Homo sapiens: one gene and its partner. The protein of the gene in region 1 purifies or fractionates together with the protein of each later gene. This does not show direct contact. Each region holds a gene or a part of one and is shown in the gene's direction. Other genes may lie near its edges.

The links.
Region 2: the proteins of RNFT1 (region 1) and PSMB2 purify together in Homo sapiens (affinity purification with mass spectrometry, with the first as the bait; one large-scale study listed by BioGRID). This does not show direct contact.

What each region holds. Positions count from the first base shown.
Region 1 is NC_000017.11:59,954,415-59,958,250, reverse strand, and holds part of RNFT1 (E3 ubiquitin-protein ligase RNFT1), read left to right. Parts: intron 1-868; coding exon 869-1,027; intron 1,028-1,697; coding exon 1,698-1,763; intron 1,764-3,836. UniProt on the Homo sapiens protein: E3 ubiquitin-protein ligase that acts in the endoplasmic reticulum (ER)-associated degradation (ERAD) pathway, which targets misfolded proteins that accumulate in the endoplasmic reticulum (ER) for ubiquitination and subsequent proteasome-mediated degradation.
Region 2 is NC_000001.11:35,601,222-35,603,800, reverse strand, and holds part of PSMB2 (proteasome subunit beta type-2), read left to right. Parts: intron 1-426; coding exon 427-534; 3' UTR 535-2,579. UniProt on the Homo sapiens protein: Non-catalytic component of the 20S core proteasome complex involved in the proteolytic degradation of most intracellular proteins. This complex plays numerous essential roles within the cell by associating with different regulatory particles.

The sequences.
Region 1 (3,836 bases):
AATCACATTAATGCTATTTAGTCTTTGTTTAAATGAATCCTCCTTTTGCAGTTTTTCAGTTTGCTAACTAGCTTAATTATCTGTATTATTTCAGCTTAGCAACCATTTGTTCAGGCACTTGAACCTGATTATTAACCTATTTGGATAAAATCAGAATTATATTTGCTTCAGAATAATTTTAAAATCAGTCCCCACATCATATGTGGGAAACTATTTAGATGTGTACTTCTGTTCTCCAGGGCATTATCAATTGACAGTTGACTATGTACAATTATTCAGTGGTTTCCCATATGCACTAAAAACTTTTAAATTCTTATAATCAGCAAAAACATACTCACATAGGTTTTACTTGCAGTATACATAAAACATTCTCATTGTATCTTTTTTTTTGGTTTTGTTTTGTTTTGAGATTGTCTCTCGCTCTGTTGCCCAGGCTGGAGTGCAGTGGTGTGATCTTGGCTCACTGCAACCTCCGCCTCCTGGGTTCAGGCAGTTCTCCTGCCTCAGCCTCCTGAGTAGCTGGGATTACAGGTGCCCACCACCACACCCAGTTAATTTTTGTATTTTTAGTAGAGACGGGGTTTCACCATGTTGGCCAGCTGGTCTCGAACTCCTGACCTCAGGTGATCTGCCCATCCCAAAGTGCTGGGAGCCACTGCGTCCAACCTAGAAATTCTTTCAAAGCAGGCCACTCAGTGACTGTAATATGTGAGAACCAGCTTGAGGTTCAGTCATAATCATTATGAAGATTAATTTTATAGTTATTTATATTATTGTATAATATACTCAGTGTTCTCAGTCTAATATTGTTTGTGCTATGTAGTTAAGTAGTTTGGGTAGCTCTATTTGTTTTCTTCTTATTTTTTAGGGTTACTGGTATATGCTTTTAGAAGAATTGTGTCAATACTACCGAACTTTTGTTCCCATACCAGTTTGGTTTCGCTACCTTATAAGCTATGGGGAGTTTGGTAACGTAACTAGATGGAGTCTTGGGATACTGCTGGCTTTACTCTACCTCATATTAAAAGTAGGTAACATTACAAATCTTGTCACTGCATGATTCACATTAATGATTACTGATACATACTACTGTTTTCCTCTTTTAACAGTTTTATAGTTTATCTTCATATCACTAGTTTGAAGTAATAGCAGGTTCTATATTTGTTTAGAAATGGAGAAACGGAAATAGACTATCTTAATCCAGCGGTCCTCAGGTTTCACTGGAGGGAAGGGGAGTCGACCTTCACATAGCGTGGATTATCTAAGTAGGGAAAACAAGTGGAATAGAACATACCCATCCTCAACAGTAACATTGTCATACACATAATTCTTAAACTAGTAGAGTATCTTGTCCTGTTCTCTCCATGCCTGCACCCCTCAACCTAATAATCACTTTATGAAACTTTAAAATCTAAATGTTAAAAACAGGTGAATCAGATAAAATTGCTTTGACTTTGACATAGTTGTATTTGTCTTGATCAAATTGTTACTCTAGGTGTTTAAATGTACTTCAGCTTGCTGAGATGGCTCAAATCTATAAATTGAATAAAATACTCAGCACAAAATGATTAGATGTGACATATAATGAACATTAAGTTAATATGAGGATTTGATGTTATGGGATTTCAGCTTTGGTTTTTGGGTTTAGCAAATAGGACTGTTTGAATTAATAAATGATCTCTTATTTCTCTTTTCAGCTTTTGGAATTTTTTGGGCATCTGAGAACTTTCAGACAGGTTTTACGAATATTTTTTACACAACCAGTAAGTACTTTTTATCAGTTAAGAAAAACACCTTCACCTTTCTTCACTGCAAAAATTTTTTTAGTTCAGCAGTTTTACAAGAATGGATTTCATAAATAGATGATCCTTTTCTTTTACTTTGATTATTTTCTAGTACTTTGGCACTTGGGGCTATAATAATTTAGGAGTTTTATCTCTGTGATCAGATTCTTGAATCACACATTGACAACCACCTGCTAATTGTTGCAGTGCTTATATATTTGAACTTGTCTCTTGCCTCTTCAATCCACTGGACATTTTTAAGGCTTGTAAACCCTTAACAATCTTATGAAATTGTGTTCCTCTTTTTTAATCCACAAATGGGGGCTTTGTTTGTTCCTATTAACTCCTTATTCACCTGTGAAAATCCTTCCATTGTAATTTATTGTTTAGAAAGCTCACTGCCAAAAATCATGTCTCTTGCAGTTTTCTTACTGGAGCAGATTTCCCCATTGCTCAATTATATGTGCATAAATACGTTCATGGCATGAAATTTAACAATTAATTGAGTCTCTGGTGTCATTTATAACATTATTGTGTGATTCTATTGATGTTGCAAATTGCAGTGAAAGGATGTCATAGAGAACCCTAATTTACCACTTAGTAGCCTGAAAGGTTCCTAGTACCTATGTGTGGTCAGCAGACTTCAGGGTTTGATTCTCAATTTTGCAGTCATTTCATCAGGGCCCAAGGAGACTGACTTAAAAGAATGCCAACCGAATAATATACCGTAAAAATAAAAAAAGAATTATGTCTACAAAGTAAACGAGACTAACTGGCCAGGGCCTTTTCCCTAAGATAGAGTTAGCAATGTAGAAACAAACTTTGCTACATCCTATGCAAGCTTGTTTCTCTAGACAAGACATAATAAAATTCAGAGAGTTCAGCTTTGTCCAAGTCAGTTCAACTGATGATTATGTGAGCATCAACCATTTTACTATAATTGGTCTTGTAAGATTTGTGCCGAAATACTCTCAAGAAAATACCCTGATATTCTTTCTCTGAGACAAACTACAGAGAGGATATCAGTCATCAATACTTGGATTTGTTCAAGTCTCCTTTACCAGGGAAATGGCAGTTACTATCTGGAGAGGGAGTCTCCAAGATGCCAGATGAGTAACGTCTTAAAAGCTTGTCAGCATAATTATCTGCAAATGTACTTTGCTAAATGACACCTTACTGAAGGGAAATTGACACCAAGATCATCTAACAGTATCCTGACTTATTTCTGAAATCTTTATTACCAGTTTCAAAAAACCTCAATTTTTAATATCTTTATCCTTTGAGTTTTACTTTGATTTTGATGTTGTTAGCCTGAGACGTTTTAGTACAAGAAGTTTAGATAACTTCAGCTATGTTAAGTCATGCTTTACCCTCATGACCGTGACTGACTTGGGTGTTCTTACATCTCTTTAGTTACCTCTTCCCCATCATTTCTACAGAAAGCAGGTTTCATTTGTAACATTTTGATTTCTCCAAATTTCACTGAGGGTTATTGACATCACATCTAGTTAATGACTAAGTTCTGAATCTGGTGAGGAGGTTAAAATCTTAGAGACGAGTAACTTGTTATTAGGACATTAGAAGAGAAGAAAATTCAAATAATTGCATTTTTGTTCAGTTAGTTTTGACAGTAGTTATTCTACCAAAGCGACATTTACAGTTGCAGTTTCTCCGTAAAACTTTTTTATGTTTAGCACTAAATGCTTTTTATAATTTCGAATAATTTTTAGACCTAGTGGCAGAAAATTCTTCAGTGGTCCCTAAGTCTTCTTCATATTGCACTCACTTGGAGACCTTTCAAATAATAGATTACTGGGTCACATCCCAATATGTCTGGTCCTAGTGAATTGATATTGTGTGGAACAGAGAAATCTATTTTTAAAGCAAGCTTTCCACATGAGTTACATTCAACCAGCCAACCTCTGGCTGGATTGACTTTATGAACCACTGCTGCAGGTAATAAGCTCAATTTGGCAGTCCTGGGTCAAATAATACATGGCTATAGATTTTATAATAGTTACATTTCAGATTGCTTAGTCTCTTAAGCCAGTT
Region 2 (2,579 bases), on another chromosome or scaffold:
CCCAATTACAGGCCTGAGCCACAGCTCCTGGCCTCTGCTTCGTTCTGAGGACAATCACTCTTTGTTAGCTTATTATCTTGAGACATTTTAAGAGAGACGTCTGTGTTTACCAGACTGATGGGTAACAGACTATGGGGAACAGAACACTGGATTGTCTCATTCTTTCGTCAGCTGACTGACCAGAGACAGGCTCTTAGTTGCACCTCCCAGTTCAGCCTCCCTGCCTCCCAGTCATCCTCCAGCTGCTGTTTGGGTACCCTCTACCACTAGAGTACTAGTGCCCTACTGCCAACTGCCTCCAGTAGAATATCAGTTCCACAAAAGCAGGGATTTTTGTTTGCTTGTATCCCCAGTGTCTAGAACAGAGCCTGGCACATAGAACTTAGTAATCATTTGTTGACTGATTTCCTCCATGTCTCTCTGCAGCTCCAGAAACGCTTCATCCTGAATCTGCCAACCTTCAGTGTTCGAATCATTGACAAAAATGGCATCCATGACCTGGATAACATTTCCTTCCCCAAACAGGGCTCCTAACATCATGTCCTCCCTCCCACTTGCCAGGGAACTTTTTTTTGATGGGCTCCTTTATTTTTTTCTACTCTTTTCAGGCGCACTCTTGATAAATGGTTAATTCAGAATAAAGGTGACTATGGATATAATTGAGCCCTCTGGTCCAGGTCTCAGTTTACCTAATATTACCTCAGAAAGGATATGGAGGGAAGATGATCTTTTTGCCAGGTCTGACTTTTCTTCCTGCTCCGCCCTCCATTAACGCTCAGTACCCTTTAGCAGCTGACGGCCCCACGTTCTACTCCATGCTTGGCTTCCTTTCCAACTAGCTCTTTCATATATTTTACTTGCTAGTATCTCCATTCTCTCTAAAGTAGTGGTTCTTTTTGCCCTTAAACTTAAATTTTTAAATTAATTAACCTGAATTAATAATACATGCACTTAATGTAACATGCAAACAGTACAAAAACATGTAGTGAAAAATATTTCTTCCAGAGCTGGGTGTGGTGGCTCATACCTGTAATCCCAGCACTTTGGGAGGCCGAGGCGGGCGGATCACGAGGTCAAGAGAGCGAGACCATCCTGACCAACATGGTAAAACCCCGTCTCTACTAAAAATACAAAAATTAGCTGGGCGTGGTGGCACGCACCCCTAGTCCCAGCTACTGGGGAGGCTGAGACAGGAGAATCGGTCGAACCCGGGAGGCAGAGGTTGCAGTGAGCCTAGATCGCGCCACTGTACTCCAGCCTGGCAACAGAGTGAGACTCCGTCTCAAAAAAAGAAGGAAAAATGTTTCTTCCATCCCTATAATCCAGTCATCTGCTTCCTGCTTCCCTTCCTGGAGGAAACTTCAGCTACTAATTTCTTATGTTTTTTAAGAGATATTCTGTTACTGTGTAAAGTATACATACATACAGACACATGCCCCCTTTAAATTTTTTAGATTTATTTATTTATTTAGAGACAGGGTCTCACTCTAGCCCAGGCTGGAGTGCTGTGGCGTAATCTTGGCTCACTGCAACCTCCGCCTCCCGGGCCCAAGTGATCCTCCCATCTCAGCCTCCTGAGTAGCTAGGATTACAGGCGCACACCACCAATGCCCAGCTAGTTTTTGTGTTTTTCATAGAGACAGGGTCTCACCATGTCATTCAGGTTGGTCTTGAACTCCTGGGCTCAAGCAGTCTGCCTGCCTTGGCTTCCCAGTGCTGGGATTACAGGCGTGAGCCACCGTGCCCGGCTAAAAAGTATTTTTAAGTTCTGCATATTGCTTATTTCACTTAACACTATATTAGAGATTGTTTTATATCAATACATATAGATATGCTTATTCTTGTTGACAGTTGCATAATTTTCCATTAAATTGATGTATCATGGGCAGTTAACCAGTTACTCGTTTTACTCTTAGCATAACTTTAGGGAACAATGTGGATGTTTTGTGGTTAAAGCTATTAAAACAGTGGTTCTTGACCAGATGTGTGTTTCAGAATGTTCATCTCACATTTCCAGTTGCTACTGATGCTGCTGGTCTAGGAACCACATATCAAAACCATTTGGTCTCCGACTAAGATAAACCCTACTTTATCCAATTCTGTGCTCCTCTTAATATCATATACAGATAGGTTTTTGTTTTGTCTGTGATTAAATGTATCATCTAAGATACTACCTACTGATCATAACGTTCATATTAAAGTATTGGGTTAACATTAGATTTGGGTGTCTTATACACTATTTAATACGCCAATGATAAATGCCTTACACCATAAGAAGAAAGCTAATCATTGAGTAAATGGGAGAAAAGAGATGATTCACGTCACTACAGTTGATTCAACCTCCAACACCACCATGAATATGCATAGGTTTGAGCTTTTAGCTAGATTCCTGAGTGTAAGGCATCTATTTTAAAAGTGCCACAGGTTGGCCGGGTGCGGTGGCTCATGCCTGTAATCCCAGCACTTTGGCCGCCCGCCGAGGCGGGCGGATCACCTGAGGTCAGGAGTTCAAGACCAGCCTGGCCAACATGGTGAAACCCCATCTCTACTAAAAAAATATATAACAATTAGCCAGGCGT